Homo sapiens: one gene and its partner. The protein of the gene in region 2 interacts with the protein of the main gene of each other region in a pairwise test. Each region holds a gene or a part of one and is shown on either strand. Other genes may lie near its edges.

The links.
Region 1: the proteins of AARSD1 (region 2) and TRIM45 interact in binary tests that used the Homo sapiens proteins (3 or more experiments, as listed by UniProt).

The regions. Positions count from the first base shown.
Region 1 is NC_000001.11:117,113,012-117,129,630, forward strand, and holds the start of TRIM45 (E3 ubiquitin-protein ligase TRIM45), read right to left. Parts: upstream 8,739-16,619; 5' UTR 8,191-8,738; coding exon 7,703-8,190; intron 5,757-7,702; coding exon 5,023-5,756; intron 3,735-5,022; coding exon 3,605-3,734; intron 2,679-3,604; coding exon 2,564-2,678; intron 475-2,563; coding exon 348-474; intron 1-347. UniProt on the Homo sapiens protein: E3 ubiquitin-protein ligase that plays a role in the regulation of inflammatory response.
Region 2 is NC_000017.11:42,949,339-42,965,521, forward strand, and holds AARSD1 (alanyl-tRNA editing protein Aarsd1), read right to left. Parts: upstream 15,117-16,183; 5' UTR 15,103-15,116; coding exon 15,064-15,102; intron 14,900-15,063; coding exon 14,768-14,899; intron 12,014-14,767; coding exon 11,854-12,013; intron 7,858-11,853; coding exon 7,800-7,857; intron 7,223-7,799; coding exon 7,066-7,222; intron 6,983-7,065; coding exon 6,866-6,982; intron 6,635-6,865; coding exon 6,504-6,634; intron 5,887-6,503; coding exon 5,820-5,886; intron 5,630-5,819; coding exon 5,538-5,629; intron 4,441-5,537; coding exon 4,386-4,440; intron 2,557-4,385; coding exon 2,462-2,556; intron 1,391-2,461; coding exon 1,255-1,390; 3' UTR 1,188-1,254; downstream 1-1,187. Other genes in the region: PTGES3L-AARSD1 protein, read right to left, coding at 1,255-1,390, 2,462-2,556, 4,386-4,440, 5,538-5,629, 5,820-5,886, 6,504-6,634, 6,866-6,982, 7,066-7,222 and 3 more. UniProt on the Homo sapiens protein: Functions in trans to edit the amino acid moiety from incorrectly charged tRNA(Ala).

The DNA of each region.
Region 1 (16,619 bases), on a different chromosome or scaffold from region 2:
GGAATTTATTTAAGGTTCTAAAAGGAATAAGATGGGTCCATAGTTTTCACACTGCTTAGGCCGCTGGAAAGGGACAGACAAACTGAGAATCCTACATAGAAGCACAGGGCTCATAGGAGCTGTACCAAAACTAACAGAACTGAGAGCTTTTAAGTCTGCTATTTCAATTCAGAACAAGGAAGCTTTAAGTGACACTTTTAGAACAGTGGTGTCTCTACAATCACAGACTGTGCTTCCTAGAAACAGAGCCTAAGTCCAAATGTCTAGTGGCTGTGTGGTAGGGAAGGGCCCGTCGCTTGATTCCCACTGCTGGCAGAAAGGCCCAGAGGGTAGTGCTTTCTCCTTACCTGGCATGGTGCCTCCACAGGCGCAGCGAGCGGTTTTCTGGCCCCCGCTGGAGCAGAAGGTGCAGCAGTGAAACACGCCTGAGTGTGGGCGGTGCTTTCTCCTCACCATCACAGTGAATGGCGAGCCCTGCAGTGTTCAGACCAAAAGCAATGAACAGCATCTTACGAGTTAACAGGATGTGCTGCGCATCACTATGTGCTAAACAGAGTCTGAGGCACAGGGCCTGTCCTTGGATGGACAAGGACAACAGGAAAGAAACAGATTAGAGGACAAGAACCCTGCTCAGCTGAGAGGAGGCAGACACAGATGCAGTGGAAGCATCACAGGGTCTATGCAGCCCTCCTACCATGCTTTTCACCGCAGATGCTAAGTACTAGACGTAGGTACTGATTTATTCCATGTAGCTGAACCTGCTGGACACTGAAAGGAGTCACACAGTCAGCTCCATTTTCAGTGACATCTGTATTAGCTGGGAATAATTGTTCTGGCAAGATGGCAGCAAAAGCAGAAGCCCATGCCACAATAAGCTTAAGCTTTTCTTGATGGATTCTGCCTCACTCTATCCTTGTATGAAGTATAAGTACCTAGATCATTCAATACATTAGTAATCTCAGACTGACTTTTCTCTGGGATTCTCAATCTCAATTCTTAAGGAACCTCAGGTATAATAAGTAGAATGTCACAACCACAAAGATAGGACATTCTGTGGTCCCTTCTCCAATTTCTCAGCCATGTACCTCTTCTCACATACCAAGCTAGCCTCTTTCCTTCCATCCTGGACATGACTTATCTGTTTACTCACCCACTTATTCTGGGACTGTAAAGACATATGGAAGGGAGAAAGGTTAAAATGTGTACAGCTAATAATTCTCAAATTAGTAACTCTCCCATCTGCCCCCTTTCCTTTAAGGATAACTTTCGTTCTCTAATTTATATCCCATGTTAAACAAAAAATATTTATTTATTTTTTTAAAGATGGGATCTCACTCTGTCACCAGGCGGGAGTGCACTGGCACATCCATAGCTCACTGCAGCCTTGAGCTCCTGGGCTCAGGCAATCCTCCCAAGTAGCTGGGACTACAGGTGCACACCATCATGCCCAATTTAAATATTTAATAAGTTGCAATGTGCCTATCCTTATGTGAGAGCCACATTGTTTGCGAAAACGCAAAACAGAGAACCTAGCACCTTAGAAGTCTTTCAGATGTTAAATTTCCCATCTTAAAGAGTTTACAATCCAGTTAAAAAACAACTTGGCATTCAAAGAAATGGGTTCAAATTCCTATTTTGCTACATTTGCTGTGTATTTTAATGCAAGTTTGGTGTCTCAGTCTAATTGGACACTGATCCCTGTGCCTGAAGGGTTTTGAGGCAAATTGAAATAATGTATGTAAAAACACCTAACCTGTTCCTGACATACCATAATTAGGTAAACAATAAATGGCTATTAAATATGAATGTTCCTTAGTGCACAAATCATAAGCCTAATATATCATGATGCTATATGGTATTTTACTGTCCCTGTCAGTGTTGATTTCTGTGGAGGGAAACCTCTGACTACTCCAATGTCAGCAGAGAGATTCTGCTCGACCTGTTAGTATCACCCAATTTTTAAAAACTCATACTCTCTAAAGCAGAAAGTGCTCTACTTGTGTTATACTTGTTTGTAGAAACCATGGTAACGTAACTTGTTTGGTATATTTGTTTGTTTATAGGAACCATAGTAACAGAAAAACCTATATGTAAAACAGAGTAGAAAATTACATGAGCAGATGGTTAGGCAGATAGATGACTAGTCAATTGTGAGGAGGGGGCATAACCCTCTCAACTGTGTTCATGTCCAGACACAGTCTGGACAAAACTGGAAAATCCTGAGCTAGATTATATTTTTTGAATATGCATGGTTGTCTGCTGGCAGATCACCCCCTGTGATCAAGACATCTTCTCCATATTAAGAATCCTAAGAAACCAACTGGGAGAATGATAAGCTATAAGCATAACTGCCTGGAGGTGACACAGGGATACAGGGTTCTTATGGTCAACAGCATCCTCCAGGAAGAATAAGAGTAGCAAAATCTGGGCTGTTTCTAAAGTGAAGAAGAAGACATGGGGATTCTATTCAATCTCTCTGTATAGCTGATCCTATGTGAAATGTCTCCAGATCCTAAGACAGTAGAATCCAGGGAGCTCAGGGAAGCACGTGCACCAGTCTTACCTGCACATGCTGTTCTTTGATGCAGACCCACACAGTATAGACGCCAGGTTCCTTGGGGGTGTAGGAAATGTAGTATGTCCCATCCTTGTTATCCTGGACCATTGTTCTGACTGGGCTGAATGGAGATAAGAGTCAAAACACCACTCACTTCCACAAGCTGGCTTCAGTTGCTACTATTTCAGAATGTAAACTCTACACCATCCCATTCAGTATTAATGTTAAATATACCCAAACAGGATGCTTCTTCCATTTGCTTCAGAAGTTAATTTTACAACAGAAGGTAAACAGCATAAATTCCAATTTAGTCTGATATTCAGACAAATTCCTTGAATATATTATTGTGTCCTTTTCAACAGGCTTCTGTTGAACCCTCTTGCTCTGTTGTCCCTCCTCCATTCTACAATTCCAGAGAAATATAAACATGCTCCAGGCATAATTTAGTACCAAAGGGAGACTGAATTTTGAAAAGGGTACCATTCAGTCTAACACAGAATATTTTTCAACTTATTCTAAAGCTTGAGATGAAAACAATCTGAGGGGCAGACCATAGCTTTGAGAGAGAATTGAATACAAAACCCACACAAGAAAACACATTTGGTCACGTAACGTTTCATAGTATTATGGGGAGGTAAGACGTAACTAGTGAGTTACACTCCAATATCTTTTTTTTTTTTTTGGACCTGGGGTCTTGCTCTGTTGCCCAGGCTGGAGTGCACTGGCACAATCACAGCTCACTGCAACCTCGACCTCCTGGGCTCAAGGGATCCTCCCATCTCAGCCTCCTGAATAGCTGGGATTATAGGCATATGCCTCCACTCCCGGCTAATTTTTTTTTTTTTAATTTTGTAGAGACAGGGTGTCCCTATGTTGCCCAGGCTGGTCTTGAACTCTTGGGCTTAAGCGATCCTCCTGCCTCCACTTCCCAAAGTGCTGGGATTACAGGCATGAGCCACTGTGCCCAGCTCCAATATCTTAAAGGACCTCATGTTTCCAGTTTTCTCACTGCCTGTTATCCATGACACCTAATTGTGTCATACAAACCTGTCTTTCTTATCTTTAGGGACAACGGCAACTTGAACGTTGTCTCCTCCCCTGCCCATGATTTCTCCTGCGGCATCCTTACAAAGCAGGGTGAAAGAGGCCGTCTGTTTCTCCCGGGCTCTGTGGAGGTCTGAAAAAGATAAACACTCGGTCCTCACCTCGAATGTAAACTGCAGTGACTACATCTCCATCTTGCTTTTTCTCTTCAGAACAAAGGGTTGTACTTTACTGTAACCACCCTGGGTCCCTTTGTTTTCTCTTCCCCTTCTGCCTCCCAGAGTACGCCTCTTGGGAGTCCTTCCTGGTTGGCCTGGTTCTCTCAGCTAGCAGCTGCTTTGGATCACACAGGATCCTGGACCTTACCTTCAGTCCTAGGACTGAAGGTCCTATGCTTTAAAAATACTCACGACTGACCGAGGTATTTAAAGAAAACCTCTAGACCCTGTGAGAGAGGATAGTAACCCCAAAACCACCCTCCCTAAGCTCCAGATCCTGCTGGGCTAGGCAGGGAGTACAGCTGACCAGCCTCACGACCCTCCATGTTTTGAGATCCTCTGCAACTTGGTAGCTCATGCCAAGGTACTGGGGGGATATCCAGTAGCTACAGCCCCTACTCCAGCATTCAGATGAAACAGGGTTTCTTAACCTGAGGTTCATGAACTACTATGAGGTCTATGGAAAGGCTTATGAAGAGTCTAAAAATCTGGAATTGTATGCACAAGTTACTGGGTGTTTCTGTAGGAGAGAACATTCTCAAAGAGATCTATGGCTTCCAAACAGTTAAGAATGCCTGTGTCATTAAGATGCAATCTTCCTATCAGGACTGACCTACTGACCTGTGAAACATATGTTTTAATAATATGCTTCCATTAGAAAGGGAACACTCGTTAAAAAAAACCATTTTTTCCCCCAATTAAATGAAACACCTACCATATCCTTTTAAATGCCAGTAAAGTTGATGTGAACCAAAAAGGGCCTAAAGGAAAGGAAACCGTAATCTCATCTTCCTCATTCCTCTGAAACTCCCTTCAGAACTTGATCTAGGAATCCAGGGCCTGCCATGCTCCTCTCTGAGCAGGCAGAATTTCACCTGGCCCTAGTCACTGCTGTTACCTCCAACGGGCACTGTCTCTGTTCTGCCATCTGATAGAAACAAAACATGATCTGTGTGTTTCTCAGCCATTATTACTTCTCTGAACTGGAAAAGGGTCAAGCCTCACTCCTGTATTAACTGTACCCTAGCCAGAACAAACCAGAAAGGGCAAAGGTGGGGGTCACTGTCTTTCAGATCAGTTTATCTCCCCACCTTTGGTAACCTGGTCAGTAGGGCATGCTTCCTAGCAGAACAAGCCACCAATCTTCACACACCACCTCCCTGTCCACTGCCCTCTCAATGTCAATGGGAAATGCCTTCCTACCTTCTCCTTGTAGGACACATTTGGCTGGATCAACCTCTTTGGTATTAATCGTACCATAAATTTCATAGCCACGGCACTGGCCTGCTTTCTCCTGAGGACAGAAGCGTATCTTATCATTTACTCCAGGACGGGTGCTATATTGAACTTTGTTCAGCTTCCTGAGCCGTTCTACCACCACCCTCTTGGTGATGAGGATCTCCAAGTCTGAGCCGCTGGTCAGCAAGTGCTCGGTGAACTCCACTCCAGTCCGCATGTCTGCCAGTAACTGTTCCAGCTGGGCCTTCTGCAGCTGCAGGGAATTTTCCTTCTGGGCCCGTATGTCTTCCAGCTGCTTCAGCAGCTTGTCCCGATGCTCCTCAATGGCCTTAATGTAGCCCTCCGAGAATGTCCGGACATCAGCTGCCACTGCCTCCACTCGCTTCTGGAGGGCACTGTTTATTATGTGGATCTGAGCCAGGGCTTCCTCCAGGGCCTCCACGTGGGGCTGAGTACCTTTGAGGAGCTCCCACACAGAGTCCCCATGCTTGTGGATGACATTGCTGGTGAAGTCACAGGGGTGTTCCCGATGCTCCCCCACCACACAATCCTGGCACACGGGCCGGTCACAGAACTCACAGAACAGCCTCAGTTCCTCTGCAGGGTGAACAGGACACAGGATGGGCTTCCCAATCCGGCTGTAGCCTTTCAAGTCTTTTAGGTCCACCATGGTGTGGTAAGTCGTTTTCTTCTGCCGCCTAGGGGCAAACAGAATCAGTAACAGGAAATAAGGGGATAATTCTGTTGGGAATAGTTGGGCAGAGAGATTTTAGGAGCACAGGATCTGAAGTTAAACAAACCTGATTTCAATTCCTTGCTCTAATCTCTAATTGCATGAACCTCTCTGATTCCAGTTTCTCATCTGTACAGTGGGGACAATACCTACCTGAAAGAGCTGTTGTATAGAATAACGTGTGAACAGACTAGGGCTCTGGCTGGCTACATGCCTATGCAGAAGGTTGCAAGACTATGACTGCATGCTAGAACTTTCCCAAAGAGTTTAGACAAGAGTCACAGTCGGCTTCCTAAGGTAAGCTAGCAGTGAGGGCATGGCAGAAAACCAGCATCAAGAAACAGAAACCATGCCAGATAACACAGCAATAAAGTCCAAGCAATTAAAAAGCAGACACCAAGTCTCATCTAGCTTGCATCTAAGATTTTGGTGAAGCATTTCTGTTGACCTGTATCACCCAAATCAGCAGGCTAGAATTTTTTTCAAGAGACATCGTCAACATCATTAGAAAGCGTGAAACCGGCCGGGCGCGGTGGCTCACGCCTGTAACCCCAGCATTTTGGGAGGCTGAGGTGGGCGGATCAACTGAGGTCAGGAGTTTGAGACCAGCCTGGCCAACATGGTGAAACCCTGTCTCTACTAAAAATACAAAAAATTAGCCAGGCGTGGTGGCATGTGCCTGTAATCCCAGCTACTGGGGAGGCTGAGGCAGGAGAATCGCTTGAACCTAGGAGGTGGAGGTTGCAGTGAGTGGAGATTGTGTTATTGCACTCCAGCCTGGGCGACTAGAGCCAGACTCCATCTCAGAAAAAAAAAAAAAGAGAAAAGAAAGTGTGAAACCAATGGTTAGTAGAATCAAAGCTCTCTTTCTAATTCCTTTCCTATAGTAGCCCTCTAGAGATGTAGGGAAATCCTTAGGAAAACATGGTGACTGTTCAGAGTTCCTCCATTAGCATTGTATCAATTTGAAGCTTATATGCCTATTCTGGCACCAGAAGAGTGGCTGCAGAGAAAATAGGGTTAGCTGGTTTGGCTGGCAGCAAGACAGTCGCAGGGACTATCACATAATTACAAGTTAAAAATAGAGTGAAGTCTACAAACTTGTTCTGTTAGTGTAGCCAGAAAACAAATGGAAGTAGAACCCGAAACCTATTTTAGGCTAATCCTAAAACTGTGGTCATTTTATATTCTGGTGTCCTAGGATGGGGTAAGGTAAGAGTACGAAGGGACAAAAGTGATCCATCTGACAAACTATTCACCAAATGCCATAAAACACATAGTCTGCACCCCAATTAACACCTACCAGCCCACCTCACCAAGCTCCAGAGTAACTCTAAGGTACACAAAGCAAAAGCTGAGGTCCGGCCAATCATCATCACCTATTCTAGGAGCACAGCATGGGTTACTGGAATGTAGTCAAAATGATCTGGATTTAATACTCAGTTCTGTTACACACTTACCAACTGTAGGACCTTGGCAAATCACATAATATTGCTGAGCTTGTTTCCCCAATTAATAAATGGGGGCGAAAACAGGGCCTGCTTTTCTGTAAGAGTTGCAAGATCGAAGGAGATCAAGAACAGGATCTATGCTGTTATATTCATTCTCCTGTTTCTCCAGCACCCAGTACAATTATTCACTACACGAATGACTGAAGGAAACTGTAGCTGCACTTTGTAAATTGAAAGGGTTTATTGCTATTGCTATATTAGGCTATATATTAGGTACTATATTAGGCTAACCGGGTTAACTGTTGTACTGGAGTATTTGCTATTGCATTGTTATATTGCTCTTTGACCTTCCACGGTATTTGAGAAGGCTTTCCTTTTCATCTGCTCACCGAGGGATTTGTCTTGACACCTCTTTGTAATCTGCTCTTAAGCTACACCTGATGGAGTGTCCCATCTTTACCTATGAGCCTGGCAGCAGAAGTGGCAGAGGTTGGCTTTGCAGGTCTGACACCTCTTCTCTACTTCCCTGTCGTTGCACAGGTCACACACCAGGCCCTGGCCTTCCCCACGTAGGCTCTCCAGCATCACATCATTCACGGCCAGGTGGTCTATGGTTAAAGCCTTCACTCCACCCATGGGCAGGTCCACCTGAGCATCACATACAGGACAAAGGATGCCGATCTGCGACTGCAGACTTCGTGGCTTGAGTTCCTGGAATATTGACCCCTCAGAGCTTGTGTCAGAGTCTCCCCCTCGGATGTCCACTACTGAGAAGGGCTCCAGCTGCTCCAGACACGTGGTGCAAACTGTATGCAAACAAGGCAAGAGCCTGGGGGCTTTGAAAAGCCCCAAGCACAGGGGGCAGTGAGTCTTGCCTGAGTTCCCAAGTGCAGTCCCACTAGTGAGTTTGCTTACAAAGCCCAGCAGCGGTTTTCTGTTTTCTGACATACTCCTCACGTTTGTGACCAATATTAGAAAGGGCCCTGGGCAGTTCTACGATTTAGTAGCAGGTGATTAAGCCCACCCAAAGAGAAAGTCTCCAGAACTTGAACAGAGACCATGGGGACTCCCTCGCTGACAAATAAAAGGGCAGACGGGAAGACGAGGCGTCCTCGAAGGAATCACCCACAGATCTACTCAGGAGGGCCCCCTCCTTTCCACTGCATCCCACACCAGACACGCCCACGCCCTCCTCTGCCCCGCAAGTCCTCCCCGGATGCGCTTCCAGGTCTAGCTCTCCAGCTAGTCCTGCTGCCAACAAAGTCACCCCTGCACCTCTCGCTCCCTCCACTGCCACCCCCCTCCCGCCGCCCGCCCCACTGCGCGCCACACGCGACAAGCGCCGACCCCACCCGCGCACGATGAGGTAGGGGCCCTCTTGCTCCTTCCCTCTGCGAAAGGCGCGCGCCGGGTGAGGGAATTGCAAGCCGCCGGCGGGCTTCTCGGTGTCCACCGCCTCTCCCGCGCCTCGGCCCGGGACGCCCGCGGGCTCTGGCCCCTCCTCACACCAATCCCAGCCCGGTCTACTCCGGCGAGTCCAATCACCGTCCGAGAGCGGCGGCCCTCGCCGCTCCGGGCCCCGCCGCCCTCCAGAGTGACGCCACTAAGCATCCAATAAGTTTTGGAAATTCCACATCTTCGCCAGTCCACTCACGCGGGGGGCGGGACCTGACAAGGCCGTGGGCGGGGCGGCCGAAGGGCTTAGAGTGCGGCGGGAGGAAAAGGCCAAGGCTCGGAGCGAGCGGCATAGTGTAGTCAGCGTCACCGTTTCACAGGGACTGTCCCTCTCTCTGTGGTGACCAGAGAGGCCTCAGGACCTCTTAAAAAGCCACGCTGATTTGGCGCCGGGACGGCCTTCTTTCTGCCCTCGGACTCGTCCCACGAACGCAGACTGGGTTCTCCCATTGGTGGATGGCACTGTCAGTTGGCTCTGCGCTGGGAGTGGGAGACGTTTTTCGGGCTCCCGAGGTCTCGGCCGCTCGGGGGCGCCAGACGTTTCTCCTCCACGCGGGTTTGAGGCTGCGAGGCTCCCCTCTGTCCTCAGGCGCTTACTGTAGCTCACAGGTCCCTCAGGCCTAGCGTGCTGGGTACAAGCACTCCCGCGGCTCCCCGACTTTGGGTATTTTTCGGGGGTGAGGGCATCTCAGGCTCGCGTTACGGGGACCGGTTCGGGAGACCGTGGAGCCGAGGTGTCGAATGGAGGGCTTACTTCGGCCGGGCCAGGGAGCGCCACCCTCCTTGTCGGGCTCGGGAAGGCTTTGTTTTCCGGTCCGGGGGGAGTGCAGATGACCTAAGGAGTTGAATGTCACCCGGGATTCCACAGTCCTGTGTAACAGAAACGAGCTGAGCGAGTTGGACCCGCTGTTTTTATCAGTCAATCACGGAGGGCTCCTGCCTGGTCACAGTGAGACAATGGACGGTGGCAATGAGGGACAAGCCCTTTGTGGGCTTAAAACTAATTGGGAAGATGAACACGTCCGACCCCTTTAACTTTATAATTACACGGCCACCTTCTCTGGCCTTACCAGGCGTCTCCTGATTCTCCAAAATTCCAAAAATGGAAACAGCTGCTCCTTTCCCCTCCACCTGTTGTTATCTCCAGTTGCGTCAGCTTGTCTACTGGGCCCTCACTGCTTTCTTTGTTCATGACCTTCCCTACTTAATTTGTACCCAGTGGGCGACTGTTTCACTTGATTCCTTCATTATCTGTTTCATGCTATAGGCATAGTGTCTGGAGCCTAAGCTTTTAAAAGTATGGAATCTGAAAAAAAGTTAACCCCAAAATATGAAAAAAAAAAAAAAAACCATTATAAAATATAAAAATGAAATGTTTGGCCATTTCCAAAATATAACACGCCAATGAGTCAAATGCCACCTTTATATAAAATGTGCAAGTAATTTCCAAATGTTAAGCATATCTCCAAAGATTTTTAAATAGTCCTTACCTAGATTTTTTTCAGCCTCTTGTCCTTCTTGCATCTACTCTCAAAATCGGCATTCGCCTCTCCAGTAGGCTGGAGGAAGTCACAAAAACTGTGTGGACTTGGGTTTGCTATATATTCTTGCTTTGAACTTCACCTTTACCCTCCCTGCTGCTTGGCTGTGCTTTACTTCATCTCTTGTTCATACTGTATCACATTTCTTGTGGTAGTAGTTTCAAGCTTCTCTTGTTTCAGAAGTACTTCATAATTTACACGTGCAATATCTCATTTAGCAGTATCTCATTTAACCTTTAACAATATTGTAAGGAAATGGCCTCAAAGAGGTCTTGCCAGGTCTTGGATGGCCAGCCCAAGTTAACATATCTGGAACTTGAACACAACCTTATGATGCCATATCTAAGATTATATTCGGGCTACCTCTACCTTTCCCTTTTTTTTTTTTTCTTTTTTTGAGATTGAGTTTTGCTCTTGTTGCCTAGGCCGGAATGCAATGGCAGGATCTCGGCACACTGCAACCTCCACCTCCAGGGTTCAAGCGATTCTCCTGCCTCAGCCTCCCAGGTAGCTGGAATTACAGGCATGCACCACCACACCTGGCTAATTTTTTGTATTTTTAGTAGAGACTGGATTTCACCATGTTGGGCAGGCTCCTCTCGAACTCCTGACCTCAGGTGATCCACCCGCCTCGGCCTCCCAAAGCGCTGGGATTACAGGCGTGAGCCACCGCGCCTGGCCACCTCTACCTTTCCTTTCTCAGTTTATTAAGCATCAAATCCCTCACACATGCTGCAGCTAATTCCCTTCCATTGATGAGAAAAACAAGGTTGTCTGAAGAACTGCCTCGCCTTTCTACTTAAAAAATCCATGATTCCTCACACCTCCTCTCTTACCTCTCCTGACTGCCATTCTTTAGTGCCAAGATTAGTTCCTCAAGATTTTTGTTTTTTATCCCAACCTCTCCTGCTTCCTCAAAACCTTATTCCTATGTTTCAGTCAGTTTTTCTGCCAAGAGTTCTGATGAAGTCCTGAAAGGGGAAGCAAATCGTCTTTTGATCTAGCTCCCCTTCAACGTATTAATAGTGGTGGTTCTCGCCCCTATATTTCTCAAAAGGGTGGTCTCACTGTCTGCTTTCATCATCTTTTTATAACCATCACCACCGATTTATTCCTCCCCTCTTTCCTATTGAGACTTTCTTGTAGATCATGAGTGACCATATTGCTGGCCTTTTCTCAATAGGCAATCTCTTTAGTATTTACCATTTTTTGTACTTCCTCATCCTTAAAACTTGCCTCCTCCTTGACTTCTGAAATACTCTACTCTCCTAACCTTCTGTCTCTTGGGCTGCTTCTCACACCCTCCATCCTCACTAGTTCCCCTTCCTCCACTTTATCTCCTACCTTTGCGTCTACATTTCCTCACGTGGATGATTCCCAGACCAACGCTTCCAGTACTGATGTCTCCCCTGAGCTTTTGACATAGATTTCTAAATCTGCACTCAAATATGTTCCTATCACCAAGTCCCACATAGCTTAAACTTCACTGAACTTCTTTGCTCACTGAACTGCACTCTCTGAATTTTCCTATTTGATTCTCTCCAGAGTATCATCATTCTCCTTTCCCTCCTGCATGAAACCTTATAGTGCTGCTGGCCTCCTTTCTCTTGTTCCATATCCAGGCAGACACCGATTTCTTTCCATCCCCACTGCCAACACCTCACTGCATACACTTTTTAAGATGCTATAGCTCTTTATCACCCTCACCTTAAGTATTACAATAGTGTCTGAATTATCCCTGCCCTTTATTTTTTTTGATCTACACAGTTCTTCCAAATTAATTGTAAAAACATATAAAAACATGATACAAGTCAGTCTTCATTCTAAAACTTTCAGTAGCTCCCCATTTTTGTAGGATAATATCTGCATTCTTCAATAGATTCATAAAACTGCTTGTTTAGTTATTCCCTAAACATTGCCAAGCACGTTTCTTGGTGTTTGCCAAGTTGTCGGCAACATTCTCCTTCCTTTATTATTTAAACCTACCCTTCCTTCTATGAAAGCCCTACTTCACACTACCCCCTTGAAGCTTTCTCTTATTTCAGGGCTCCAGATTCAAGCCTAATGCTGTTTTGCCTATATTATTCACTTTGCAGTTTGTGCTACCTTGTGGTATTGTTTTTATTTATTATGTGTGTATATATATGCATGTGTATATATTTACATATGTGTATATATTTACACACTATATATATCACATACATACATGTATACTCTCTCTGTTAAGATGGAAAATCTTGGCAACCTAGACAGTAGTCATTTAATAAAGACCTGTTATTGATGAAGGAGAGAATGGTGATCTCAAGTAATGGGAGGACAAACAGGACCACCTTCAACCAAGAGTTTTATGGATAGTGCAGACCATAAGTGATATGGGGTGACATCACAGGACGAGAGAGGATTTGTTAAGGATGCTCCTTTCTCAGAATTAGTTCGGTGTCTTCTTCCATGCTCACACATTGCTTCATCTGTCTGGGGAAGCAATAGTCATGGGATGAGAGGAACAGGACTGATGAAAGTGACCAGCGTTCATGAAAGTGTCTACAAGACTTTCAGCCCACACCTGTTTGCCCAAGACAGGGAAGATATTGAAGGCAAGAAAGCCAGGAAGGGAGAATGACCCATCAGGAAATCAGGCAAGGCTGGTTTGGGCACTATGCTTGATCATTACCATCAGACATTGAGTGGATATATGGAAAGGGACCAGAGAGTTCTGTCAGACTTATCTTTCACCATTCCATCTGTCTCTGTCACCATCCTTCCTTCTTTCCTTCAAAGGAAGGAGACTCCTTTCTCCTGGGACCTGTGCTCTGAAGTTCAGCCCTGCCTGCCTCCTCTCTCTTCTGTCTTTATCTTCTTTCTGGTGGATCTTTCTTTCCGCTCATGTCCATGCTTCAGTCTCTCCTTCTACCCTATGCCCCTCTCTAGCTCCCAATCCCTCTCTACTTCTTTATAGCCAAGCTGCTTGACAAGAATAGTCTACATTTGCATCTCTTCTTCCCTTGCATTTTACTCCTAAACACAGCGCAATCTGGCATTTGCTCTCACCATTCCTCTGAACTTGCCTTTGCCAAAGTTACCAATAATTTCATATTTGCTAAATCCATTGGATACTTTTCAGTTTTTAACTAACTGAATTCACTATAGCTTTTAACACTGACAGTTTTTTGTTTCAGTTTGTTTTTCTTGTTTGAGACAGGGTCTCACTCTATTGCCCAGGCTGCAGTGCAGTGGTGTGATCACAGCTCACTGCAGCCTCAATCTCCTGGACTCAAGCGATCCTCCCACCTTAGCTTCCCAAGTAGCTGGGATTATATGTGTGTGCCACTATGCCCAGCTAATATTTTTATTTTTGTAGCAATGAGGTCTCACCATGTTGCCCAGGCTAGTCTTGAACTCCTGGGCTCAAGTGATCCTCCAGCCTTAGCCTTCCAAAGTGCTCGGATTATAGGCATTAGCCACTGCGCCTGGTCTGACACTGACAACTTTCTTCTTGAAACTTTCTTCTTCCTCAGTTACCATATGCTATTCTTGATTTTTCTTCTACCTCCTGCCGCTCTGACCACTTCTCTTTTTCTCTACAGGACACTGCTTCACTATGTTGGTCAGGGTGGTCTTGAACTCCCAACCTCTGGTGATCCACCTGCCTTGGCCTCCCAAAGTGCTGGGATTACAGGCATGAGCCACTACGCTGGTGGCTTCTTCTTCCTCTTCCTCGTCTTCCTCCTCCTCCTCCTCCTCCTCTTCTTCTTCTTCTTCTTCTTCTTCTTCTTCTTCTTCTTCTTTTCTTCTTTCTTCTTCTTCTTCTTCTTTTTTAACCTTTTCATCCTCCCTTGATTGATGTGGGATTTGGAGGTGATTTATAAACCATGAGCCCACTTGTTACATGGGGGCTCTTTTTACTATATTATTACCTCCATCATCTCTGAATTCACTCCCTGTTTTCAATTCATTCTCTATAATCCTGTTAGGGATCTTTTTGCAATTCCAGTTTGATCATGCTCTTTGGTAGCTCTTCCATGCCTATGTTTACTCATTTAATATCCTTTGAGTACCTGGAATATGATTTTCCCAAATGTCTTCACAACTTACTCCCTACTAAAATAATAAGTTCCTTGACAGCAAGGACTTTTGACTATGTGCCAGGCACCAGAGATGTATTGTTAAAACAAGCAAAAATTCCTGCTCTCGTGGAACTTACCTTCTAGTAGGGGAAAGCAGCCAATAAACAATAAATATGCTGGGCACGGTGGCTCATGCCTGTAATCCCAGAACTTTGGGAGACTGAGGTGGGCGAATCACTTGAGATCACTGGCCAACATGGCGAAACTCCGTCTCTACTAAAAATACAAAAATTAGCTGGGCATGGTAGTGCATGTTTGTAATCCCAGCTACTCGGGATGCTGAGGCAGGAGAATCACTTGAGCCCGGGAGACGGAGGCTGCAGTGAGCGGAGATCATACCACTGTACTCCAGCTTGGGTGACAAAGCGAGATTCTGTCTCAAAAAAAAAAAAAAAAAGAATAAATATAATAACTGCAGAAACTATACAGTATGTTAGAATGTGAGAATGCTATGGAGAAAAATTAAGCAGAGTGAGGAGCATCCAGTGCAGGATGAGGGTGTTGCAATATAACTGGAGTGGTCAGGATAAGTATTATTGAGAAGGTGATATTTGAGCAAACACTTAAAGGTGAAGGAGGGACCCATGGGGAAAAGGTAGTTCAGATGAGGGAAGAGTTAGTGCTTGCTGAGAGAGGAATGTGCCTACTCATGTTTGAGCAACAGTGAGGAGGCCAGTGTGACAAAATCAGAATGAACTAGGGGGAGAGGAGTAGGAGGTGCCTTCAGGATAAAACTCCATATGTCTTAGAGTGATATATATAATCTCATATGTATATATGGTTTCCCATGACCCTGCCTCTGCCAGCCCAGTCAACCTCATTTCTTGCACTGCCCCATCCAAACCCAAGCATGCACACTGGGCTTCAGCCTTCTTTTATGATTATACAAGCTACTACTTATTCTGCTTCGGACACTCTGCCCACTCTTCTTTGCCTAATGAATTCCAACCCATTCTTCAAAGCTCAGTTTAGACATCAACTTCTTTAGGAATCCTCCATTCACCAAGTCTTCATTAGGCATCCCTCTGTGTGTTACCCGTGGTACTGTGATGATCTCTATCAAGTCTTTAACATTCTGCATTTCAATTTTCTACTCGCTTGTCTGATTCAGCCCTCTGTTCTCACTGTTCCCCTCCTCTTCCACACTGGGAACTCTTAAGCACAAGGGACCTTGTCCTGTTTCTGCATCCTTAATACTGGGCACAGTGTCTGAAACTTAATATGGTTTAATAAATGTTTGATAGTGAATAAATGGCCAAGATTCATGTTTCATTTCTAAGAAACTGATCATTAGGACAGATGACTGGAGAAATTTATTGTTTATTTCAGACAGATCATTTTTGTCTTCTGATTTTCTTTTTTAAAAGGGCCTGATTCCTGAAACACAGAATCTTTAGTGCCATCTAGTGGAAACAGCTCAATAAAAACGCTATACTATGAATAAAACTCAGCTTCCTTTGTTCTATTTTATTTATTTTGAACCAAGACGGACAGAGAAGAGAGGGCTAGGTTGCATAGACTCCAGGGCACACTGCATGCTGGGTGTTTTTATTTTTATCTAAAAGTTCACTCTACCCGAGAAGACTCTAGTTGTGAGATCTAACAAGTATAAATAGTCCCTTATCATTGACATTTTGTGAAAATGGGCAACTCTTCAACTTTGAGAAGGTAAGAAGGAAACAGCTAGAATAATGTGAGCTTTGGAACTCTCCTTGTGTAACTGCTTTTAGGTCAAACTAGAAGTACACAAGATATCAGTTCCATTATTAACAACTATCCTTTTAGAAAAAAATTCTGTACTGTTTTATCCAAGACAGACTCCTTAGCTCTTCTCAATTGACTCCTAGTTGTCTGATCGATTGTCTGTCATGACCCCAAACAATCTGTAGTTGATGTAGTAAGACAGGAAGCTGCACCCAATCTTAGTTGGTCTGATATAAATATAAGCGGTTCTTAGACATTTACACTTTATTCATCTGTTTCTCTGAACTCCCTTGTTTATGTTTATTACATAACAGAGCTCAATATTAATGTTGTTTGAAATACATGTTTTAAAAATTACCTGCTACATTCTGTTAATGTATTTTATTTTTAAAATGTGGATAAATGTGTTGTGATTATATTATTTTTACATAAATTTATCTTCCATATAAAATATTCATAAGTAAAATGAGTAACAGTAAGAAAATGGCACATTTTAGAGATTGAGTTTCGTGCTGCATTTGGCAATAATGCTTGTGATTAAAATTAGTACAGT
Region 2 (16,183 bases):
TTGTTCTAGCTAAAGCTGTGACTGGATCTTTGTTTTATCACCTTTCCTGGATGTGCAAATCCAGTATTTCTACCCAGGTCTGTGAAACTTCAAAGCCTGTGCTCCTGAACATATTATGCTTCCATTTGCTCTATCACTAATGAAAGATGAGCTTAAGTCTTCCGTTGATTACAGATTTGTCCGTTTCTCCCTTGAGATCTGTCAATGTCTGCTTTATGTATTTTGAGGCTGTTATTAGATGCATACAAATTTAGAACTGTTATATTTTTCATCATTACACGTCCCTCTTAATCTCTGATTCTTACTTTAACCCTTTTCCTGTTTGCCCTGAGAATACTCGCCAGTGATGCTTGCAACTGCAGCACTTACCCCAAGAAGGTGACAATGCTGTCAACATTCCACAGTGATACTGTGATTGAAGTAGACAACAGAAATGGAAAGAAAACTAAGAAGCCAGCTGGGCACAGTGGCTCATGCCTGTAATCCCAACACTTTGGGAGGCCAAGGTGGGCGGATCACGAGGTCAAGAGGTGGAGACCATCCTGGCCAACATAGTGAAACCCCATCTCTACTAAAAATACAAAAATTAGCTGGCATGGTGGTGCGAGCCTGTAGTTCCAGCTACTCGGGAGGCTGAGGCAGGAGATTAGTTTGAACCTGGGAGGTAGAGGTTGCAGTGAGCCAAGATCGCACCACCGCACTCCAGCCTGGTGACAGAGCGAGACTCCATCTCAAACAAAAACAAAAAACAAAAACAAAAAAATCAGCCAGGCATGGTGGCACACACCTGTAATCCTGGCTACTCTGGAGGCTGAGGCAGGAAAATCCCTTCAACCCGGGAGGCAGAGGTTGCAGTGAGCTGAGATCACACCACTATATCCAGCCTGGGCAACAAAGCAAGAGTCCATCTCAGGGGGTGGGGCGGTAGGGGCGGGAAAAAGCCATGTGCCTTTGTGGATTATAACAAAATTATGGGAGCAGTGGACTCAGCTGATCAGATGTTCATTTCTTATCCAACTGAGTGCAAAAGCACAAGGTTTGGTATAAATTAATCCACCACCTTCTAAACATTACAGTGCATGAACTAAATTAGAAAATTATCTATTTATAAACGGAAAGTAACCACACAAGCACAATGGAGTATACAGTACGAATTAGTCATATAAATACAAGTGGTAGCGCAACCATTCTGAGTCAATCTATTTTATTGACCAAAAGATTCCTGTGGAAACAGGAGGTGAGTGCCCTAAGCCCTCACTCCTTAGCACTCTGCGTGCTGATGTAGTCCTGGAGAAGCGCCTGCGCCTCCATCCGCCGGCTCATCTTGGTGGCCTTGCCCTGAAAACGGCCTTTCTTCCCTGCTCCTTTGCCTTCCAGGACCTCAGCCACCCTGGGGAACAGAGGTATAGTCAGGGAGACTTTGAGGGAAAAGTCACAAAAAAAAACAAGGGCAGCTCTGAGTCTTTTTCCAGGGACTGGGAGAGGGATAAGAAGAGTAGATGACTTCTAGGAATCTTTCTTGAAAACACTTGCACATAGGCTGGGCATGGTGGCTCACACCTGTAATCCCAGCACTTTGGGAGGCCAAAGTGGGTGGATCACCTGAGGTCAGGACTTCAAGACCAGCCTGACCAATAGGATGAAACCCCGTCTCTACTAAAAATAAAAAAATCAGCCGGGCATGGTGGTATGCGCCATAATCCCAGCTACTCAGGAAGCTGAGACAGGAGAATTGCTTGAACCCGGGAGGCAGAGGTTGCAGTGAGCCGAGATGGTGCCATTGCACTCCAGCCTGGGCAACAAGAGTGAAACTTTGTCTCAAAAAAACACTTGCACATATGCACAAAGATATATGTACCATCATCACATAAGAGTGAATAACTGGAAACAACATCAGTGTCTATGAATTGGGCTAGATAAATTATGTTAATCTCCAGAGAGCAGGGTGAGCACCTGTAATCCCAGCACTTTGGGAGGGCAAGGCAGGTGGATCACTTGAGGTCAGGAGTTCGAGACCAGCCTGGCCAACATGGTGAAACCCTATCTGTACTAAAAATACAAAAAATTGGACGGGTATGGTTATGTGCACCTGTAATCCCAGCTACTTGAGTGGCTGAGGCAGGAAAATTGCTTAAACCTGGGAGGTGGTGGCTGCAGTGAGCTGAGTAGCCTGGGCTCTCCAGGCTGGGCAACAGACTAAGACTCCATCTCAAAAAACAAAAACAAACACATTTCATAAAAACAAAAACAAAAACATACATGTGAGATGTGGAGCCAAAAGACCTTCAACTGTCAAACTGGAAATGACAGTAGTAATAATTATCTCTGCTCAGCCCACCTCACATGCCCATGATGTGAATTAAATGAGATCGCAGATGTGATGGTCCTTTGACTCAGTAAAGGAATGTATTTGTAGGATACAGGCTCTACTACATGTGCAAGAGAGTCCACAAAGAATTACCTGGGCCCCAGGGTCTCCACAGACGCAGGTGGCCCTGCCAGTAAGAAGAGTCCACCACCTTTCTCATCGCCCACAGTTAAGAACAGGAGGGTCTCCTAGGAGGTAAGACAAGGAGATAAGCTCTGATACTGAAGGATGTAGAGTCAACCCCCCAAATCCTGCACTCTCTTCAATCTTAAGAATAGATTATTTCCCCCTAAACCACCAAGTGACGCTCCTGATGAATGATGATACAGCCCCTCCACACTGGCCCACGAGGGCCAAGAAACTTTTTGAGAGCAACTATGGGAACTTAGGTGAAACATTAAGAAGGCAGCAGAAGACTGCTGATCCTGGCTAAGCAGAAAATGCCTTTCATGGTTTCACTCTTGCAAACTTTTCCCCACCACACATCCTTTCCCTGCCACTGCCTAAACCACCAGGTTTCCCTCTGCCTGGCCGCCTCTGCCCCTTGTCTGTCTGATGACCTCTAAGCAGTCTTCAAGGGCCCCTCCCCTGAAACCTCCCTATCCTTCAGGTAATGTGCTCCTCCACCTCTAGCATTCATCACTCTATCATTCTGAATTATAAATGTCGACATACATATTTGTCTCCCAGACTAGAATATGAGCTTCTTGAGAATCAGTTCTGTCTATACAGAAGAATTATGAAAAGAGAGATACACAACGCTTTACCCACAGTAGGCATTCCAAAGAAGGGTTCTGGAGTAAATACAAAAGAGATAGTGGGGCATGGTGGCTCATGCTTGCAGTCCCAACTACTCAGGAGGCTGACGTGGGAGGACTGCTTGAGCCCAGGAGTTCAAGACTGCAGTGAGCCATAATCACGCCACTGTACTCCAGCCTGGGTGACAGAGCAAGACTCTGTCTCTGAAAAAAACAAACAAACAAACAAACAAACAAAAGACCTGGAAATCTCTAGGCTAGAGACCATCAGGAGTGGGAAGAGTAAGTAAAGCCAGAGGAAGAGGAAAATGGACGGGGATGGCTTTCAAAGGGGCTTGCCCACTCCTGTATTTACTTTTTTTTTTTTTTTTTGGAGACAGTCTGTGTTGCCCAGGCTGGAGTGCAGTGGCGCAATCTCGGCTCACTGCAACCTCAGCCTCCAGGGTTCAAGCAATTCTCCTGCCTCAACCTCCCAAGTAGCTGGGTCTACAGGCACCTGCCACCACACCCAGCAAATTTTTGTCTTCTGTTTTGAGACAGAATCTCACTCTGTAGCCCATGCTAGAGTGCTGTGGCACAATCTCAGCTCACTGCAACCTCTGCCTACCAGGCTCAAGAGATTCTCATGCCTCAGCCTCCCGAGTAGCTGGGATTACAGGCGCATGCCACCACGCCTAGCTAATTTTTTGTATTTTAGTAGAGATAGGGTTTTACCATGTTGCCCAGGGTGGTCTCGAACTCCTGAGCTGAGGCAATCCACCCGCCTCAGCCTCCCAAAGTGCTGGAATTACAGGCGTGAGCCACCATGCCTGGCCTGATTTTTCTATTTTTAGTAGAGATGGGGTTTCACCATGTTGGCTAGGCTGGTCTCCTGATCTTAAGTGATCCACCCACCTTGGCCTCCCAAAGTGCTGGGATTACATGCGTGAGCCACCGCGACCAGCCCACTGATATATTTCTAATATTGGATCCCCAGCACACATAAACCTGAATGGCTTTGAGGAGCTAGAGCTCTGATGAAAGGAGCTCAGAAGCTAATAAACATCACAGCCCCAGAGAGAGCAATAACATAGATCTAGCTCAACACCTAAAACAGAGCTTGGCATATAGCTAGTACTAAGAAAACAGTATTGAATGAATGGCTATTTCCTCCTCCTCATGTGTTCATGTGGAGGGACTTTGGCTAAACTAGCGCCCCTCACTTATGTCTCCCTAGGTCTCTATCCAGGCCGGGGTAGAGAATCTCATGCTCCTCTTACCTCTGACCCAATCTCATTGGCAATGATATTCATGAACTCTGAATCACCCTCCTTCCTACAACAAAGGACACAGACATGAGACCCAGGTTGGAGTGGTGGCTGTGAAACTGCAGGAAGCCTGGCCCCTCCTTCTGAGGCTGGCCTTGCTGCCTATGTACACATAAAGTCCCATATCCCTTAGCCAAGAGAGAGTACTGGCTGAAAGCCAGCAAGCTGCCCTTCTCAGCCTCTGCAGTTTGTAATCAACCTCCAGGTTTGTTTCCATCTCCCTTAAATAGGATTCACCAGGATAAGCAGAAATCTGTTAGAGAGTAAAGGAGGTAGGGGACAGTCCTAAAGAAAGATACAGGCTGGACACAGTGGCTCACACCTGTAATCTCAGCACTTTGGGAGGCCAAGGTGGGCAGATTGCTTGAGGTCAGGAGTTCAAAACCAGCCTGGCCAACATGGGGAAACCCCAGCTCTACCAAAAATACAAAAGTTAGCCTGGTGTGGTGGCACATGCCTGTGATCCCCCAGCTACTCGGGAGGCTGAAGCACGAGAACCGCTTGGACCCAGGAGGCACAGGTTACACTGAGCCGAGATCATGCCACTGCACTCCAGACACACTAAGACTCCATCTCAAAAAAAACACAAAAAACAAAAGATACAGAGTTACAGTAAATATGTTAATATCAAACCCAGGAGGCCTGGTATGTAACATATTTCTTTTTTTTTTTATATTTTTGAGATGGGGTCTCACTCTGTTGGTCCAGGCCGGAGTGCTGTGGCGTGATCTCCACTCACCACAACCTCTGCCTCCCGGGTTCAAGTGATTCTCCTGCCTCAGCCTCCTGAGTAGCTGGGACTACAGGCGCGTACTACCATGCCTAGCTAATTTTTGTACTTTTAGTAGAGAAGGGGTTTCACCATGCTGGCCAGGCTGGTTTCGAACTCCTGACCTTGTGATCCACCCGCCTCAGCCTCCCAAAGTGCTGGGATTACAGGCGTGAGCCACCGCGCCCGGCCAGTAACATATTTCTTAGGATCTACTCAACCTTGAGAATACCAGTGAGCAATCCACCTCCCACTGTACATTGCATATAGAGAAGACACTGAGCCCTAAGCCCAACACAGTTCCCCTTCCTTGTGTCCAGCTCCTAATTTCTCACCTGTGTAATATGACCACACCTCCCCAGTCTGGACTGTTCCTGAGGCTATGGGCAATGTGCACAGCCAGGTCTCTGAGCAGATTCAGGTTATTCTGAAATGGATATGGTAACTCAGTAGATAAATGGAAAGGATAACAATAGAGAGTATCAGCTTCCCTCCACCTCATTCTCCCCTCACTCCCACTTTGACAAACTACACATCTGTTTAGGCAGAAGACCAAGTCTGCAGAGCCTATCCTAGGCAGGGCCCATGCCCTCTCTACCCTCCATGGAATAAATCACCTTCTGCAGGATCTTGGTGGAGTTCTGGAGCTTTTTCACTGCTTCCACATGATCCTCTGCTCCACACCTGAAAGAGAAAGGTCAGAGGAGACCTGCGCAGCTTCCCAGTCGTTTCTGATGTTGGGGACATAAATCAATAATTTCCTTCTTGCTATGGTGCCTCCCTGCAGTCAGGGACCAGGAGATATTCTGAGGAGGTCTCTTAGGCAACTGGGAGAAAACATACAAAGGAATTAACCACTTTTCGTGGTTCTGATTTACTATCCAAAGCACTTGATCTTTTTTTTTTTTTTTTTTTTGAGACAGAGTCTTGCTCTATCGCCCAGGCTGGAGTGCAGTGGAACGATCTTGGCTCACTGCAAGCTCCACCTCCCGGGTTCACGCCATTCTCCTGCCTCAGCCTCTCGAGTAGCTGGGACTACAGGCGCCCACCACCATGCCTGGCTAAGTTCTTTTTGTATTTTTAGTAGAGACGGGGTTTCACGGTGTTAGCCAGGAAGGTCTTGATCTCCTGACCTCGTGATCCGCCCACCTCGGCCTCCCAAAGTGCTGGGATTACAGATGTGGGCCACCACGCCTGGCCGCACTTTATCATTTACGATTGCATCTTATCTCCCAGAGGTAAGAGATTATGTCGAAAATCTCAGAAATGGGAGGTAATCGAAGGTACTGAAACAGGCATACTTAAGCAGAGCAGTCAGTGCTTTTTCAGTTCCATGACTTCTCTCCATCCACTTCAGCACCCGGTTCCCAGACAGAAATATCAGGTTGGTTCTGTTCTTTTTCCCCTTCTCAGTGCCCAGAATCTTAATGACCTACATGAGGCAAGGGGGTAACACACACACACACGTGTGCACATGCATAAACCACAGCGGATCCTAGAACCTGAAGGCAGGAGAAACCTATCTGTTCCTCAGCTCTGAAACAGTGAAGGGGAGATTTCACTTAGGACTCCTCGATTATCCCCCTCTCCCACTCCCAGCCCCATGTGATCCCCTCTCCCCCAATCCCTCTTCTCAGCCACTCCACAGCCGTTCCTCACTTACCTGAAGGTCACTGAGATTGCTCACATGGGTCCCACAGCACATGTTGGAATCAACGCCCTCGATGTTAACAACCCGAATGGGCCCAGCATGATCATCAGGCAAACCCCGGCCACTCACCTGGACTCAAGGAGAGGGGAGGGACTGTCTGAATCTGATGAGGAATCATTCCGCAGAAACCATCCCTCTGGCTCTACCCTTACCTGCTCCACCTCAGGATCATCCAGGCTCAGTTCTCGGACATTCACAGGCAGCCGATCTCTGATTTTTTCATTGACGCTCTGCTCAATGGCAGCTACTTGCTCTGCAGTCATAGAGGGGGTGTCCAGCTCAATCGCACTCCGAAATCTCCCTAACTCCCTGTCAGAAGTACAGTGGCCACAGATAACATATCTTACTGAACAAGAAAAAGCTGAAAGCTTTTCCTCTAAAAACTGGAACAAGCATACCCTCTCACCACTTTTTTTTTTTTTTTTTTTTTTTTTGAGACGGAGTCTCGCTCTGTCGCCCAGGCTGGAGTGCAGTGGCGCGATCTCGGCTCACTGCAAGCTCCGCCTCCCGGGTTCACGCCATTCACCTGCCTCAGCCTCCCGAGTAGCTGGGACTACAGGCGCCCGCCACCACGCCCGGCTAATTTTTTGTATTTTTAGTAGAGACGGGGTTTCACCGTGTTAGCCAGGATGGTCTCGATCTCCTGACCTCGTGATCCGCCCGCCTCGGCCTCCCAAAGTGCTGGGATTACAAGCGTGAGCCACTGCGCCTGGCCTTTTTTTTTTTTTTTTTTAAGACAAGCTCGCTGTCACCCATGCTGCCATTTGGTGGCAATCACAGCTCACCACAGCCTTAATCTCCCCGGCTCAAGCAATTCTCCCACCTCCGCCTCCCTCCCAGTGCTGGGATGGGCCTGCCTACAGTTAGTCTTATGCCTCCCACTCACCATGATGTTGTCTTCAGCTTAAATAGATGGTCAGCAACTGCCGTGATGAGATGCTGCCCTAAGCAAAGAGAGCCAGAGACAGGAGAAAAGTGAGAAGCCTACATACTCCCACAATGATAAAATATGAGCTACAATGATAAAAGCACAGAAATTCTCCTTGTTGAAGACCTGCTAAGCACTGGGTAATACACTTTAGATACTTTATTGAAAATCACAATGAGAATTCTGCAAGAGGCCTTATGATACCATTTCACAGATGAGGAAACTGAAGCCTAGAGAGATCAAATAACTTGCCATGGCAATGTAACTTATAAGGGGCTGGACTTGAACTTAACTTCCTTTTTTTTTTTTTTTTTTTTTTTTTGAGACAGTCTCATTCTGTTGCCCAGGCTGGAGTGCAGGGGCTCACTGCAGCCTCCGCCTCCCAGGATCAAGCAATTCTCGTGCCTCAGCCTCCTGAGTTGCTGGGATTATAGACGTGCATCACCGTGCCCGGCTAATTTTTCTACTTTTAGTAGAGATGGGGTTTCACCACGTTGGCCAAGCTGGTCTTGAACTCTTGACCTCAAGTGATCCACCTGCCTTGGCCTCCCAAAATGCTGGGATTACAGGTGTGAGCCACTGTGCCCAGTGAACTTAAGTTCCAATATGCAGCATTCATCCATTCAACAAGTATTTATTGAGTACCTACCAAATGCAAGGCACAGGGCTTGACATAAGAGATACAGCAGCATCCCTGATTGACAAGAGTGATGATGAGGAGAAAGAAGAGGAAGAGGAGGAGGAAGAAAAGGAGAAAGAGGAGGAACTATCAAGGAAGAGGGAACAAGACAGCCAAAGGCCTTAAGGAAGAAAGAAGTAGCGCATGTCAAAGGAATCCAGAGATGACAAGCAAGGCCAGGATGCAGCCAGCAAGAGGTCAAGGGACACCAGATGAGGCTACAGCAGTAGACAAGAGCCACCCAGATACAGCTTGTATGCCATGGTAAAAAGTTTGGCTTTACACGAAGACCTACAGGAAGCCTCTGAAGAGCTTTAAGCAGAGGAGTGACATAATATTTTCATTTTTTAAAATTTATTTCAGTCAGGCGCGGTGGCTCACTCCTGTAATCCCAGCACTTTGAGAGGCCAAGGCAAGTGGATCATGAGGTCAAGAGTTTGAGACCAGCCTGAAACAACGTGGTGAAACCTCGTCTCTACTAAAAATACAAAAATTAGCCGGGTGTGGTGGCATGCACCTGTAATCCCAGCTACTCAGGAGGCTGAGTTGCTTGAATCCCAGGGGTGGAAGTTGCAGTGAGCCAAGATTGCACCACGGCACTCCAGCCTGGGCAACAAAGTGAGACTCTGTCTCAAAAAAAAATAAAAATAACAAATAAAATTAAATAAAATTTATTTCATTTTACATATTTATTTTTATTTATTTTTGTATTTATTTATTTATTTATTTTGAGATGGAGTATCGCTCTGTCACCCAGGCTGGAGTGCAGTGGTGCAATCTCAGCTCACTGCAACCTCTGCCTCTCGGGTTCAAGCGATTCTCCTGCCTCAGCCTCCCAAGTAGCTGGGATTACAGGTGCACGCCACCATGCCTAATTTTTGTACTTTTAGTAGAGTCAGGGTTTCACCATGTTGACCAGGTTGGTCTCAAACTCCTGACCTCAGGTGATCTGCCCACCTCAGCTTCCCAAAGTGCCTGGGATTACAGGCATGAGCCACCACGCTCAGTCTGTTTTTATTTTTCTTGTTTACATTTCCACTTTAACTTATATTTATTTATGCCAGGTGCGGTGGCTCAAGCCTGTAATCCCAGCACTTTGGGAGGCCGAGGCGAGCAGATCACAAGGTCAGGAGTTCAAGACCAGCCTGGCCAACATGGTGAACCCCCATCTCTACTAAAAATACAAAAATTAGCCGGATGTGGTGGTGCGTGCCCGTAATCCCAGCTACTCAGGAGGCTGAGGCAGGAGAATCACCCGAACCCAGTAGGCAGAGGTTGCAGTGAGCCAAGACTGCACCACTGCACTCCAGCCTGGGTGACAGAGCGAGACTTTGTCTCAAAAAAAAAAAAAAAAAAAAAAAGTTATATTTACTTTTTTGAGACGGAGTCTTGCTCTGTTGCCCAGGCTGGCGTGCAGTGGTGCCATCTCAGCTCACTGCCACCTCTGGCTCCTGGGTTCAAGCAATTCTGCCTCAGCCTCCTGAGTGGCTGGGACTACAGGCATGCACCACCACGCCCAGCTAATTTTTGTGTTTTTAGTAGAGACAGGGTTTCACAATGTTGGCCAGGCTGGTCTCGAACTCCTGGCCTCAAATGCCTGACCTCATGATCTGTCCGACTTGGCCTCCCAAAATGCTGGGATTACAGGCGTGAGCCATCGCGAGCAGCCTACATTTATTTTCTGAGACAGGGTTTCACTATCTTGCTCAGGCTGGTATGGAATTCCTAGCCTCAAGCGATCTTCCCGTGTCAGCCTCCCAGAGTGCTAGGACTACAGCAGTGAGCCACAGTGCCCAGCCATTTCTCTTTTCTTTTTTTTTTTTTGAGATGGAGTCTCGCTCTGTCGCCAGGCTGGAGTGCAGTGGCGCGATCTCGGCTCACTGCAACCTCCACCTCCCAGGTTAAAGCGATTCTCCTGTGTCAGCCTCCTGAGCAGCTAGGACTACAGGCGCGCATCACCATGCCTGGCTAATTTTTGTATTTTTAGTAGAGACAGGGTTTCATCATGTTGGCCAGGATGGTCTCGATCTCTTAACTTCATGATCTGCCCACCTCGGTCTCCCAAAGTGCTGGGATTACAGGCGTGAGCCACCGCACCTGGCTGCCATATTTTCATTTTTAAGATTGTTCAGCTGGGCGCAGTGGCTCCCGCCTGTAATCTCAGCACATTGAGAAGCCGAGGCGGGCGGATCACGAGGTCTGGAGTTCGAGACCAGCCTGGCCAACATGGTGAAACACCGTCTCTACTAAAAATACAAAAATTAGCCAGGCATGGTGGCACGCACCTGTTATCCCAGCTACTCGGGAGGCCAAGGCAAGAGGATCACTTGAGCCCGGGAGGTGAGGTTGCAGTGAGCCGAGATCATGCCATTGCACTCCAGCCTGGGCGACAGAGCGAGACTCCAACTCAAAAAAAAAAAGACTGTTCTGGTGCTATGTGGAGAATGGGCTACAGAGGAGCCAGACTGAATGTGGGGCAATCAATTAGGAAACTGTTAGAGAGGTCCAGGGGGAAGACAGCTAGGAGCTGGGACTAGGATGACAGTGACTGTGGAAAGAAGTGGACAGACATTTAGAAAACAAACCAACATGCTGGGGGGGTGTGGCTCATGCCTGTACTTTGCGGGGTCAAGGCAGGCGGATCATCTGAGGTCAGGAGTTCAAGACCAGCCTGACCAATATGGTGAAACACCGTCTCTATTAAAAATACAAAATTAGCTGGGCATGGTGGTGGGGGCCTATAATCCCAGCTACTCGGGAGGCTGAGGCAGGAGAATCGCTTGAACCCGAGAGGCAGAGGTTGCAGTGAGCCGAGATCGCACCATTGCACTCCAGCCTGGGTGACAGAGCGAAACTCTGTGTCAAAAAAAAAAAAAAAAAAGAAAAGAAACCAACAGGACTCAGTGATTGGCTGGCTGTCTATGCCTGAAGAGGTATCTGGAATGACTTCCAGAACTTGAGTGACTAGGTGCATGCTGATGCCCTGCGATGAACACACAGGATGCTAATGAAAGACCAGGAGGGAGGGGAAGGCTTTTTGTTTCATTTTGGACATTTTGAGTTTGAAAAGGCTGTGAGACATCCAGATGGAGATATCGAGTGGGAAGTTGATAATACCTAAATCCAGCAGTTATTCTAATACTTTTTTTTACTTCAGTTGTTCATGTTGCTGTTATAACATTTAGGATATCCTTCCTGAATTACAGCTGATTCTGAATAGTCTGTCTTTTCCAAAAGGTTAACTCCTAGAGAACCCAAACTACGTCTCAGTCATCACAGCATCCCCATACATGGCAACTGCTCCGGTGTTATGTCCCCCATCCCAGCCTTTACCTGAATGCTGCTGCATGTGGTCAAACCTCCGCTCCCAATCTACCCGGACCAGAACCTGGCTTCCTGGATCCAGGGGTGTCTGGGTGAAATGATCAGCCTGTTCCCCACGGCGAGTCACTCTCAGCACAGAGATGTCATTGATTGTACCACGGTCATCAGGCTGGTGGAAATAAGTAAACGTAATCAATGGCAAGGCAGGGCTCACCCTAACTTCTAGGTACAAAGACCCTCTAGGGTGAGAGACCCAGAATCTGGGCTCCCTAAGGGAGAGGGAGAAAGCAATGCCAAGTGAAATGAGTCCACTTTGTTCCATGAGAGGATTCTCAGTCCTTTTCATTCTAAACACCTATGTGTTGTGATCTTCAGAATAACAGAATTAAAGAGATTGTAACTACAGCAACAAAAATTTTAGTAAAACCCGAAGAATCTTAATCCTCAACTCTCCTTGCCTTAGTCTAGATTCTTTTGTAGTCTCTAAAATGATCTGATTTTTCCTCCCTCCCTCCACTCCATCCTCTTGCAGTGGTATTAGAATTAGATTCAAAAATGTTCATTTAGGCTGGGCATGGTAGCTTATTCCTGTAATCCCACCACTTTGGGAGACCAAGGCAGGAGGATCGCTTGAGATCAGACTGGACAACACAGTGAGACCCCACCTCTATGAAAAATAAAAAATTAGCTGGCCATGATACTCCCTGCTACTTGGGAGGCTGAGGTGGGAGAATCACTTGAGCCCAAAAGGTTGAGACTGCAGTGTGCTATGATTGCTCCACTACACTCCAGCCTGGGTGACAGAGTGAGACACTGTCTCATTTAAAAAAAAAAAAGGGCCAGGTACAGTGGCTCACACCTGTAATCCCAGTACTTTGGAAGGCCGAGGTGGGCGGATCACAAGGTCAGGAGATCAAGACCATCCTGGCCAACATGGTGAAACCCCGTCTCTACTAAAATACAAAAAATTAACTGGGCATGGTGGTGCACACCTGTAGTCCTAGCTACTCGGGAGACTGAGGCAGGGGAATTGCTTGAACCTGGCAGACGGAGATTGCAGTAAGCCGAGATCACGCCGCTGCGCTCCAGCCTGGCAACAGAGCAAGACACCATCTCAAAAAAAAAAAAAAAAAAAGTTCATTCATTTTAAAACATTTCAAGTGCCAACTGCTTACAAAAGACTGTGCCAGCCCAAGAATACAATGTAAACAAGATATGGTACCTCATGGAACTTAAGAGTCTAGAGAACAGAGGCTGGAAAACAGACAATTGCAATATGACCTATAACATGCCATAATATGAAAAAGTATATGACGCTAGAGAACCTCAAAGGAAAGAGACCTAACAGTCTTGGGGAATCAAAAAAAGACTTCCTGAAAGAAATGCTGTCTAAAATGAGACCTTCTATGGATACTTGAGGTCACAGGTTTTCCTTCAGCAGATCAGGGAAATCTTCATACTGGGAAAATCACCATAATAATGACTGATATGAAATTGGAACTCTCTCAATACCAAGTCTACTGAACATGTTCTCTCATGTCACTTATTTGCTTAAGAACCTGAGTGGAGGCCAGGGCAGTGGCTCACACCTGTAGGCCCAGCCTTTGGGAGGCCAAGGTGGGAGGACTGTTTGAGGCCAGGAGCTCAAGATCAGCCTGGGCAATAAAGTGAGACCTCATCTCTACAAAAAAGCAGCCAAGCATGTTGGTTGTGCGCCTGTAGTCCCCACTACTGGAGAGGCTAAAACAGGAGGATTGCTTGAGCCTGGGAGTTCGAGGCTGCAGTGAGCTAGATCAGGCCACTGCACTCCAGCCTGGGTGACATAGCAAGATCCTGTCTCTTAAAAATAAAAAAGAAAGAAAATAACCTGCATGGTTCGCTGCCCACACACCTTAATACACCTTTTTTTTTTCTTTTGAGACGGAGTCTTGTTCTGTCCCCCACGCTGAAGTGCAGTGGCACAATCTTGGCTCACTGCAACTTCAGCCTCCCGGTTCAAGTGATTCTCATGCCTCAGCCTCCCGAGTAGCTGGGACTACAGGGGCCTGCCAGTATGCCTGGTTAATTTTTATATTTTTAGTAGAGACAAGGTTTCATCATGTTGGTCAGGCTACTTGGGAGGCTGAGACAGGAGAATCACTTGAACCCAGGAGGCGGAGGTTGCAGAGCTGAGATCATGCCACTGCACTTCAGCCTGATGACAGCGAGAGATTCTGTCTCAAAAAAAAAAAGAAAGAAAGAAAGAAAAGAAAAGAAAGAAAAGCCTTTCTCATAATGCCCACCTTTGGTGTTATTATCCTCCTCTTCCATCTTCACAATGTACCTCACTTGCGCTCATGTTGTACCTAGTCCTCATCACAGCACTGATAAATATGCTCTCTGCTGTACTACTGTAACCCGTCTATCTCACCTGAACTCCTTCAGGAACATCTTTTTCAGTCCCTAAAACCCGAAGCTAATTCCTTCCTTGGGGCCTTTGCACCTGCTATTCTACCTGCCTGAATACTCCCTCTGCCCCCCAGCACCACTAGATAATTGCAAAGACTCACCCCCTCACTTCGTTTAGGTCTCTACTGAAATAACTTACCCTTCATCTAGACAAGCATCCCATCACTCTCTTTCCCTTTACTTGGTTTTTGTTTATTACTTATTATACCTAGCACACACAGTTGTCTTCAATAAACATTCCACGTATATAAAGGCACTGTGTTGTTCACCGGTTATCCTTACAGCCTGGAATAATATCTAGCATATGTTATGTCTAGATAAGCAATTGCTGATAAATACTCATTAAATGAATAACAAAATGAATTAAACTAAAGCTCATCTGAATTCATTATGGCTGAGAAAAAAGGGGCAGGAGAGCATTTCGGCCTGAGCACAAAGAAACTGGGGGCTTCCTGGGAAGAGATCGTTTTGGTACCTGTCCCCCGCCCTCAGGGAAAAGCACTGTGTCTTCCAGCACCACTTGGAAACCGCTCAGCACTTCTTTCTTGCCGTTGCTCCCTTCAGTCTGCAGCTCCGCGGGACAGCAGGAGACCACGGTGGTGGTGAACTGAACAGAGAGGAATGAGAGAATAAGCCCCGACCCCAGCCCTAGCCCTAGCCCTCTCCACACCAGGACAGAATGCCATGTTGGCACTCCCTACACGTGGCGCCCTCTTCCCCAAACCGCCTTGCCGGCCCGGCAGTCTCAAGTGCCTCGCCGTGACGCCGTACCTCTCGGGCATAACTGTCACGCTGACACCAGAACGCCATACCTGCAGGCGTGTGAGGAGGCGCACGCGCAGAGAAGCCTGGGAGCGAACGGAGAGCGACGTGGGACAAACGTCATCAAGGGCGCTTGTCTGCGCAGAAGCAGGAGGGTAAGGAATGGAATGCGGTTTGGATAAATTTACTGAAAACGCGAATTGCATATTTGCTGGGTTGTTTAACGACTGTTCTAAGGCTTTACAAAGGACAAGACCAGGAGGAAAAAAACAAACAAACAAAAACAAAAAAACGCGACCTGGACAAGGCACGTGGTTTAGTGAGCCCCTTGGGGCCCCAGGGATGTAAGTATTCTGGCTGCGGAATCCCAGCGCATAGAGGCGGGGACGGGACTGGCATGGTTACTGAGCAGCACTGCCCAGTAGAAATAGAAAGCAAGGAGCTGGGGGAGGTGGCTCACGCCTGTAATCCCAGCATTTTGGGAGGTCGAGGCGGGTGGATCACCTCAGGCCAGGAGTTCGAGACCAGCCTGGCCAACATAGCGAAACTCCGTCTCTACTAAAAATACAAAAATTAGCCGGGCGTGGTGGCGGGCGCCTGTAATCCCAGCTACCCGGGAGGCTGAGGCAGGAGAATCGCTGGAACCCGGGAGGCGGGGTTGCAGTGAGCAGAGATTGCACCACTGCACTCCAGCCTGGGCGACAGAGCGAGACTCCGTCTCAATTAAAAAAAAAAAAAAAAAAAAAAAAAAAGGCCGAGCGCGGTGACTCACGCCTGTAATCCCAGCACTTTGGGAGGCCGAGGCGGGCGGATCACGAGGTCAGGATATCGAGACCATCCTGACTAACGCGGTGAAATCCCGTCTCTACTAAAAATACAAAAAATTAGCCGGGCGTGGTGGCGGACGCCTGTAGTCCCAGCTACTCCGGAGGCTGAGGCAGGAGAATGGCGTGAACCTGGGAGGCGGAGCTTGCAGTGAGCCGAGATCGCACCATTGCACTCCAGCCTGGGCGACAGAGCGAGACTCCGTCTCAAAAAAAAAAAAAAAAAAAAAAAAGAAGAACAATTTGGCCAGCGTGGCCAACATGGTGAAACCCTGTTTCTACTAAAAACACAAAAACATTAGCCA